Linked DNA regions of Homo sapiens: region 2 is linked to region 1. A link means that fine-mapping ties the variant in region 1 to the expression of a gene that starts in the linked region. Tissue or cell type: lung. Region 1 holds a variant in brackets; the other region holds the start of a gene. All regions are shown on one strand. Distances are from middle to middle.

What was found. PIP is the estimated chance that this variant, and not a neighbour inherited with it, causes the effect. A credible set is the group of variants that fine-mapping cannot tell apart.
Region 2: it holds the start of PRRG1, and the variant in region 1 is the best candidate, but not a certain one, in a credible set for the expression of PRRG1 in lung (TOPMed, PIP 0.76).

Annotation. Positions count from the first base shown.
Region 1 is chrX:36,927,367-36,932,520 of GRCh38, forward strand. No RefSeq gene overlaps it. Among named protein-coding and RNA genes, the nearest start is that of FAM47C, 78 kb to the right of the region's middle. The variant T/C (reference allele first, on the strand shown) is at 3,143.
Region 2 is chrX:37,346,683-37,351,836 of GRCh38, forward strand. PRRG1 (proline rich and Gla domain 1) reads left to right here and starts at 2,682. Exons shown (of 4, transcript NM_001142395.2): 1 at 2,682-2,713. RefSeq lists enhancers at 2,478-2,989, 2,990-3,500.

The sequences.
Region 1 (5,154 bases):
TGTCACAAATTCCATTTTTATCAATTATATCCCCATTAGCACAGATTTATACTTATTGCTATATAAGAGCAAAAAAGCATTTACAAACCAAAAATACAATAACACTTGTTTTAATAATTTATTCATATGACTTTAAGTTGCTATCTAATTTCCTTTTATTTCAGCCTAAAAAACTCCCTTCAGCATTTTTTATGGGTTGGGTCTATTAACAATTAACTGTCATGCTCTAATTTATATAAGAATGTCTTAATTTCTCCTTCATTTTTGAAGGACAGTTTTGTCAAATAGATAATTCTTGGTTGACAGGTATTTTTTTCTTTCAGTCCTTAAATACATTATCCTACTTCCTACTGATGTGTATGGTTTCTGATGAAAAATCAGTTGTTGATCTTATGGAAGTTCCATTATGTGTCATGGTTTTTTGTTTGTTTACTGTTTCCAAATTTTCTCTTTCTCTTTGGCTTTTGACAATGTATTTATTTTATGTCTTATTATGAATGTATTTGAGATTATCCTATTTTGAATCTGTTGAGCTTTTTGAATGTGTAGATTTATGTCTTTCATCAATATTGGGTAGTTTTTGGGCAATATTTCTTCAAATATTCTTTATGACCATTGATCTCTTTCCCCTCCTTCTGAGATTCCCATAATGTGTGTGTTGGTATGCTTGATGGAATCCCATATGGCTCCTTAGGCTCGTTTCAAATGTCTTCATATTTTATTTTCCTTCTTTTCCTCAGACTGGTTAATCTCAAATGTCCTATCTTCAGACTTGCTGATTCTTTCTTCTGCCCACTCAAATCTGCTGCTGAGCTTCTCTACAGAATTTTCATTTCCATTATTAGATTTTTCAGCTCCAAAATTTCTATTTTTTTAAATAATTTCTATCTTGTTATTGATATTCTGTATTTATCAAGCCATTATTCTCCTGGTTTCTGTTATTTCTTTGCCCATGGTTTTCTTTAGTTCTCTGAGCACACTTAAGATAGTTGATTTAAAGTCTTTGTCTAGTATGTCCAATGTCTGAGCTTCCCCAGAGATAGTTTCTATTAATTTCTTATTTTCCTGGGAATGAACCATACTTTTGTTTCTTTGTGTGCCTTATAATTTTTTGCTAATACTTTTTAAATATTATAATGTGGTAACTATAGAAATCAGATTTTACTTCCTTCCCATGATTTGTTGTTGCTTCTTGTCAGTTGTGGTTGTTGTTTTGGGTAGTATTTTTAGTGACTTTTCTAGGCTATTTTTGCAAAGATTGCATTATTTTTCACTTTATTATTGAGGCCTCTGTTCTATTAAACTTGTGGTAAGCTAATAATTTTATAGGGATTTCCTTAAACACCTGTAGCCAAAAAAAAATTTAATACTCTCCCAGTTTTTGCGTATTTGCTCCATTGTGGTCACCATTTCAATGCTTAGCCAAGCCATTTACAACTCTGCCTTTGCCTTCACTTTATCTTCATGGAACCTAAATGCCAGCCGAAGGTGATAGCTTAGGGTTTTTGCAAGTCTTTTCTGAACATGTATCCAGCCCTTAGTGTGTGTATGACTTTTACATTCTCCAATATAGGTGGCACCTTTTCAAAGCCATTATTCTCCCATGTATCTCCTTCAGCAGTCTCTCCCTTTCCAGGCTTTTCGGCCTGCCTGCTGCTTGCTCTATCTGTTATCCCTCATCTCATGTGGACATGGACTTTAAATGCTTTTGATAAATGCCTACTGGAAAGCCAATCCAGTGCTGAGGGAACTCCATTGGGAAAGCAAAACAAAAGCAAGCCCCTGAGATTATCTCTCAGGGAGCCATCAGACAGTACAAAATACCAATTCTTTGTTCTCAAAGTTGTTCTCAAAGAATTGGTATTTTCTCCTTCTCTGTCACTTGCTAGCCACACCAAGAACCACAAATACTGCAGGACTAAAGAAAGCATAGAGTTTTTCCTTCCTCTTCTACAGTATTTTTTTTAAAAAACTTTTATGGCCGGGCATGGTGGCTCACGCCTATAATCCCAGCACTTTGGGAGGGGGAGGCAGGTGGATCACGAGGTCAGGAGAACAAGACCATCCTGGCTAACATGGTGAAACCCCGTCTTTACTAAAAATGCAAAAAATTAGCCAGGCATGGTGGTGGGCACCTGTAGTCCCAGCTACTAGGGAGGCTGAGGCAGGAGAATGGCGTGAACCCGGGAGGCAGAGGTTACAGTGAGCTGAGATTGCGCCACTGCACTCCAGCCTGGGTGACAGAGCAAGACTCCATCTCAAAACAAACAAACAAACAAACAAACAAAAAAAAAACTTTTCTAATACATATGTGATCTTGTTAGTTGTAAAAATGTCTGCCTTCTCTTATGGACTTTAATTCAATGAAGTTGGACTGTAGTTTAAATGATCACTCATTTCCCAATAATTTCAACAGTACCTGGAAAATAATAGGTGTTCAATAAATGTTTGTTAATCAAGTTCACTCTATATAAAGTAGATGAATTAAGACTCTGAAAGTTTGATGTGACTTGCAGTGACTCACTCATCTACTCAGCAGGGAAATCTAGCCGAAGCACCAGAATTTCCAGGAAAAATATTATGTAGTTTATTTACTTCTCTGAATTTTAATCTCGCCTTGCTACCATGACTTGCCCTCGAGCACACAGACCATGCTGAACTTCCAGAAATTGTGTTAGTTCCTTCATGTGTCCAACCTCAATCCCTGTGCTATGCTCACAGATAGTCTCAAAGGAGGTCTTTAAAAAAAATATATGGACTACTTTCTTCTAACAATTGTATTGTTAAAAAATCCTTTATGAAAAAATACTTTATGGTCAATCCCAACTGCTTTACAGCAAATTAGCCACCCATCATTTTTTCTTGCCCCAAATGCTCAAGATTCCTACAAAGTTCAGGACTAGATAGAGATTACAAGGTAATAATTTCTGTCTATTGTTTTGCTAGTCCACCCAAAGGAATATCTATGCCTTTAATTGCCCACTTTAGATAGCTTTCAGCTTTTGAAAATTCAGTAAGAAAAAATTCCCAGTAAATATCACCATTTGACAAAATATATCACCTTCAGGGGAAGCAAAGTACAAATGTGAACCACATGAACCTAAGAAGCAAAGTGAGCCACACAGATCTGCCAAATTTGATA[T/C]ACTAAAGAGGAACATCATTCTTTTTTAATTGTACATAACACTTTGAGAACATTATTATTCTAAAATGCTAATCCTTATTCAGTGCCCTCAGGCCTTGCTGTAATCCTCTGTAGGAGCAATTTTCACTGACAGTGGCCAGTAGTTCAGTCACTAGTAGGCAAAAGCATTACATTGATAAACATAAATCCTTCAGCTAGGGAAACAATAAATAACTTTAACAGATATGTAATTAATAGGCTGCTCAACAAGTGCTCTGAGCTCCCCAAGCTGGTATTTAAATGCAAATATGCACCAGAGTGTGAAAAGCACGAATGGAAGAGAGAACCACCATGAAACCATGCAGGCTTCCCAAAATTCAACAAGGGGCTTAGTACATGGTAATCATGTAACTGCCCAAGGAGTTCACCTTGCCTGCTGCCTAGACAGAGCCAATTCATCAAGACAGGGGAATTGCAATAGAGAAAGACTAATTCACACAGAGCTGGCTGTGCAGGAGACCATAGTTTTATTATTACTTAGATCAGTCTCTCCAAGCATTCAGGGAGCAGAGTTTTTAAGGACAACTTGGTGGGTGGTGGGAAGCCAGTGAGCCAGGAGTGCTGACTGGTCAGGGATGAAATCATAAGGAAGTTGTCTTCTTGTACTGAGTCAGTTCCTAGGTGAGGGCCACAAGATCAGATGAGCCAGTTTATTGATCTGGGTGGTGCCAGCTGATACATCAAGTGCAAGGTCTGCAAAATATTTCAAGCACCGATCTTCCTAGCAGTTTAGGGAGGGTCAGAATCTTGTAGCCTCCAGCTGCATGACTCCTAAACCATAATTTCTACTCTTGTGACTAACGTTAGTCCTACAAAGGCAGTTTAGTCCCAGGCAAGAGGGAGGTCTGCTTTGGGGAAGGGCTGTTATCATCTTTGTTTTAAACTATAAACTATAAACTGAGTTTCTCCCATGGTTAGTTCAGCCTATGCCCAGGAATCCACAAAGACAGCTTGGAGGTTAGAAGCAAGATGGAGTCAATTAAGTTAGATCTCTTTTACTGTCTCAGTCATAATTTTGCAAAGGCGGTTTCAATCACAACAATATGTCCAGGTCAAGCACTAGTACTTATCTTCCCTTGGAAGTCTGCTTAGGTCCAGCCAACAATTGCACACACTTGTTTAAAAAAGAAACTTCTAATACAGGGGATGGGGAGATAGTATAGAAACAAAAGACAAATATTCTTATGGCCAGCACTCTATGTTTTGTTTTCAAGGATGTTAGATGTAAAATTTAATTTTTCCTTCTGATAATTGTTTTTCAGCCATGGAGTTTCAAGAATATGGTGTATCTAATTCAAAACCTTTAAAATTTATGTTATAAAATGTATTACAGTGTTCTAATAAATCAGCTCTTGGTAGTAACAAATTACCAGTATGTACCATGTATTAAAAAGATAAATGGGAATTTAATAGTTAAGAGAGAAGGTGTTTTCAGATCACACAGCCAAATCACTAACTAATGGACACATTTGTAAACTCGGCAATGATTTACACCAGGGCTCTTGGTTAGAGTGCATAAATCCAGCAGAAGAGTTTTTATCTATCAACTGAGACTTTTGGTCCCTTGTTTATAAATCAAAAAGTTAACAAAGAGTCAGGGGTCTGTAAATCCAGATACTATATTATAAATTTGTAGCTTTTTATTTATAAATAGGTAGCTTTAAGAATTATATATAACAAATAGAAAAATGAATTGCATTTAAAATTAAGTGAAGGTTAGTATTTATAAATCACAATTATAAATAAAATGTCTATATGTTTGCATCACCAACCAATACCATCTCAACCAATTCCAAAACTATGCATTTCATAAGATCATAGCAGGGATGTGCCAAGCAGAATGTCAACACTTGGCAACTTCAGTGCAGGAATTAACTCAATGTTATTCTATTAACTTTAATAGGGAACTTTTAAAAAATATAGCATCTGCATTAAAATTTTTTGTTTCACCATAAAAGGACCAAATAATGGTT
Region 2 (5,154 bases), 420 kb after region 1:
CCCAAAACCTGTGAAAATATGTTACATGGCAAAAGGGAATTAAAGTTACAGATATAATTAAGGCTGCTAATCATTTGCCCTTCAGATAGGGAGACTGTTTTGGATTATCTTAATGTGCCCAATATAATCAGAAAGGTCCTTACATGTGGAAGAGGTAGGCAGAAGTGTCAGTGTGTCAGAGTAATATTATTGTTGGCTTTGAAAATGGAATACAGCCATGAATGAAGGAATGTGGGAGGTCTCTAGAATGTGGAAAAGGCAAGAAAAAAGATTCTCCCAAAAAGTTTCCATAAAGGAACTCAACTCTGCTGACGCCTTGATTTTAGTCCAGTGTGACTCTTGTCAGACTTCCTCCAGGACCATAAGATAAATTTGTGTTGTTTTAAATCATGAAGTTTGTGGTAATTTTTGTACAGCAGCCACAGAAAACTAATACACAGACACTGTTAACCAGCTTTGTTAATACTTGAATACTTGGGGAGGCAGGGAGAGGGAGAGAAAGAGGGGTCAAAGGTAATTCCAAGGCTGTATTCCTTAAATACAGTTTCGATGGTGGACATCTTTTTTTTTTTGTCTGTCCATTGCCTGTCTCTTCTGAAAACGGCATCTCCCCCTTACTGTTTGTTTTCATTTAGAAATTTTTCTCTTTATTTTTTTTTCTTTAACCATGTGGTTCTAATTGGGTCCCATTCTTATGTCACATACGCATTTTCTCTTCAGGAGTGGTTACGGTACTCAATTCTACCCAATCAGATGTTTTAACTGTTGCTTTAAAAACTGGAAGTGAGAGAAGAGAGATACTTTCTCTCTGGTAGGAACTTGGTAGGTGTGAGCAACTTGTAACAGGCTACGGTGCCAAACCAGCAGAACATGACTTTGAGATGTTCTGTTAGAATGACCCTGTCTGTATTGAGAGCCTGAGCTGGAATTCAAAGCATTCCTGTTGCTGGTTCCATTTAATCCTATGGCCAATCATAGACCTACCCTTTCACAACTTGGGTTACACAATAACTTCCTGTTTTTGCCTGATCTACTTCAATCTAGTTTTTGTCATTTCAACCAAAATATCCTGAAAAATTTAGACAAAAAAGAAAAAAATAATCAAGTGAAAAGTTTTAAAAAAACACATATGCACATTTATTAAGGATGCAAATCTTACTTTTATTAGCCTAGCAATTTTTTTAAGAACATGTATGTGAAATATTTTACTAGTGAAATGAATAGGACAAAGTCCTGCTTCCAGGCACTTACAGACTTACTAATCCTGCAAAATTTGTGCCTACATTACCAATATACCTTTTGGCAATATATCTCTCTACATCCTCCCTAGGCTTATTTGACAAGTGCAAGATAGAAATGAGTTCTAGAAAATCTGATTTGTAAAATATATGAATGGAAGACAAGAAAGGTTAAATGGAAGAATTTTGGGATATTCAGATCTTTAAGGGCAATCACCAAACTCTCCCATAAAATGCTCCCATCACAGTTAAAATGCTTGCTAGGAAAGACTATTGGTGTGGTCCTGTGGCAATTCTTTTATTCTTAATAAGCCAAATGTTTCTTAATTCCATCACAATTAAAGTAAAAAGAAGGGGAACTTAGTTTGGAATAAATCACTTCAGGTCCACAGCCCAATTCACTTTGGATTCACTCAGGCGTGTGTTTATTTTAATAGCTGATCTGAAAGCATGTGAGATGCCACAGCTGACCAGACTGTAAACAGAAAAGCATACAAGTTAAAACCAAGCACGCATGCAGCATGGAATAATAATCAAGCTAGACTCCTTATGATGCAAAATGCCAGAAAACCTCCAAGCATTAGGTCAAAGTTTACACAATAGCAAAAGCCTTTTATTCTGTTTCTTAGAGGGGCTTGTAGAAGTTTAAGATTCAAGTTCTAAGATAGCTCTACCTAAAAAGCGAGGTCAAAGATGGGTTTTCTTCTCAAGATATTTGGGTAAGTTTGTACAAGACGGTTTTTTTTTTTTTTTTTTTTTTTAGAAAAAGCAGATAGTTGTCACCAAGAGTTGTCCGGAAACAGTGGCAAGGGAATTATTCCTCAAGGAAAGTGCAATTCTCTGAGCTGTAACAGTGGACAATGGTCGAATAGTCACCAACCACGATCTGGGCTCACACATAGCAAAGAGGTATATTAACTAGGATGCCCTACACAGGCGGTCTGTGGATGAGAAATCCCTATGCCCCTCACTTCACCAGGGCTGAAGAGTACGCGATGAGGAGAAATGACTAGGAAAAGGAATAATGTGTGGTGAGGTATGTATGCGAAAGAGAAAAAGGCTGGCGGGGACCCGCGGTGGCTAGGAGAGACGTGGCGGCCCAACGGCTGACTACTTGGGCCCGCGCCGAGCCAGGCTTTCTCCACGGTGCGTGTGGGAGTGCACAGAGGGGCCTCGACGGCTTTTCTGTATGTGTTATAAATAAACCCCAATAGTGGAAAGCTCCAGCAGGATGCCCTGAGCCCTGGGTCTTCCCAGCAGAAGCGGTGGAGGATCCGCCCCTCGTTTCCCACCCCCGCGCCCCACCCTGTTCCCGCCCCTTCTCTCTTAACCCCGCCCCAGCCCAGCCCCCGCCTCTTTCCACCTCCCTTCCAGTCCGCTCCCGGTTCCTGGCTCCAGCTAGGCTCGGCAGAAATAGGAGCGCGCAGGCGCGACGTGCGGCTCGCAGAACGGCGAGTAGCGGAGCGGGACCCGCTGTGAGTGTGGCGGCCGCGCTGGGTTCCTAGCTGGGGAAACGTGATCCAGGCGAAGCGCCCCAGGAAGGATTGGGGTGTGTGGGGGTGACTTCGGTTCTGCGAGGAGAAACCCGTCAGATATGCGGTAGCGTTGGTAGCGACGCTGCCTGTGGGTGTCCGGCCAGGGCCGCGTGGGGAGCGGAGTGCGTGGTAGCGGGAGTGGGTGAGGGTGGGTATGACGAGAAAAAAAATTGAAGGAATGGGGTTTACAGGCTGGAAGTCCGCACACAGACTGGGCAGGACCGCGAGGCTTGCCAACGGTGCTGGAGGGTGTCCCAGCTTCAAGTTCAGTCCCCTGCTTGGTGCCCATGAGGGACGTCCCAAGCTCATCCCTTCCTCCAGCGCTGCTTTCTCTGGTGCAGAGTTGCTAGAAACATTCCCCGTCGGAGGGGAAAGGATTTGGAGGCGGTGGGCTGTCGGCCCGGGCTAGTCCCAAGGAGGGCGTGGCGTTCGTGTGACTTTCCTTTACCCACCCCCGGGAATGTGTCCCTCTTCTGATCCATTGTGCCCGTGGACATTTTAACAAAGGCTATGACTGTTTTGTAGGCAGTGGCGGGTGACAGTGGGAGGGGGTGCGTGCGAGGTCGGTCGCGGTGCGGCCCTGGGGGATGGGAGAGCGGGGGGAGGGGGAGGCGGCGTGGGGGGAAGTGAAAGGAAGAGAAACAGTCTTCCTGCTTCAGGTTTTTCCTTCTTCCTGGTCCGCTGAATTTGATCACTGGTAGGAACAGCCCCAAGAGGGATATGACTGGAAAGTAGTGTGTGCGCGTTTGGACTCTGGCTCCAGCCACTGGTTTTTGTGATTGTGCTGTGCAAGTATTTTCTACGAGTCCCTTTAGGAGAAAAGCGAAACTAATGGGATTTGAGAGGAAATAATTGAATGAAAGGATGAAGAGGTTGAGTGACAAAACTTAGAGCTTAATTATTTGTCTGTTGATGGTCATACTATAAAGCCAGACTTTGAAGGATGCGAAGGTGTTCAAGCCAGGGTAAGTGAAAAGTTGGTTAGGCTACTGTTGATTGTTTCAATCAAGAGTGGATTATTGGGCATGTGTGTGGATGTGCTGTCAAGATCTTGGGCCGACTCACTTTAGAACCTTTGAAAATAATATTAAGGATACAAAACATTAGGGCAAATATTGTAATATTGGATAAAGCTCCATATGCTTTCATTTTCAAACTTAGGGACTTTTATGAAAGATAGTATATGTGTTCCCAAGCATAGATGTTGATATTTTTACTCATTTGTTTTAAGTTAATACAACAAAATAAACTGAACTTCCTCCTCTCCACCCCTTTCCCTCGATTGTAAATCCCGTTTTATAAACGTTTACTTTCTGATCTGAAGTATACTTAAAAACACAATTACCCCGCCCAACCCCCACCCCTGCACCAACCCCAGGCATGAGGTGAACAGGATTTCTTCTGGTTTTATTGTTATGTTATTCTTTCTTTTTCTATTTTCCCAAATTTGGGGCAGGTGGAGGGCGGGGAGTGTTAGGGATGCCTTTTCTCTTTTCTAGTGCCTGATGAACTCCTATTCATCTTTCTAGACTTAGCCTGATTCACTTCTTGAAAAATTTTGCCATCTTCTCCAGAGTGAATTAATCACACCCTTTTCTGTTAAATTTATATAACTTGCCTTATTTCTCCATTACTACTAGAACCTCAGTCTTTTGTGTTACCCTTGTACCTAGAGCTGCCTGGCATGTGATAAGCACCTAATAAACTAACTTACAGATATATATTAATAAATGCTGTTAGAAAGATGGTAATTCATAGGCCGGGTGCAGTGGCTTACTCCTGTAATCCCAGCACTTTGGGAGTCTGAGGCAGGTGGATCACAAGGCCAGGAGATCCAGACCATCCTGGCTAACATGGTGAAACCCCGTCTCTACTAAAAATACAAAAAAATTAGCCGGGCGTGGTGGTGGGCGCCTGTAGTCCCAGCTACTAGGGAGACTGAGGCAGGAGAATGGCATGAACCCGGGAGGCGGAGCTTGCCTTGAGCTGAGATCGCGCCACTGCACTCCAGCCTGGGCTACAGAGCGAGACTCCGTCTCAAAAAAAAAAAAAAGAAAGAAAGAAAGAAAAAAAAGATAGTAATTCATATTGCATAAAGTTCATGGGATAATACAAGAAATTCAGAATTCTGAAATTGTATTTAATATTTGAGCAGCATTATTTGGAATATGGATAAGTACTGTGTGGAAATATGTTCTCATGTATTAGTCATAGTTTATCCCTCTAAAAAGAGGTGCAAAAACTCTACAGATAAAGGGAAAATAGGGATCAGAAAAAGGTGAAGTTTTTAAAAAGGCCAGTTTCTGATACTGAAACTAGTGAAATTAACTATTTGTAGAAAGACACAAATAGGTTGCTGCTGGAATTTAGGAAGTACTACA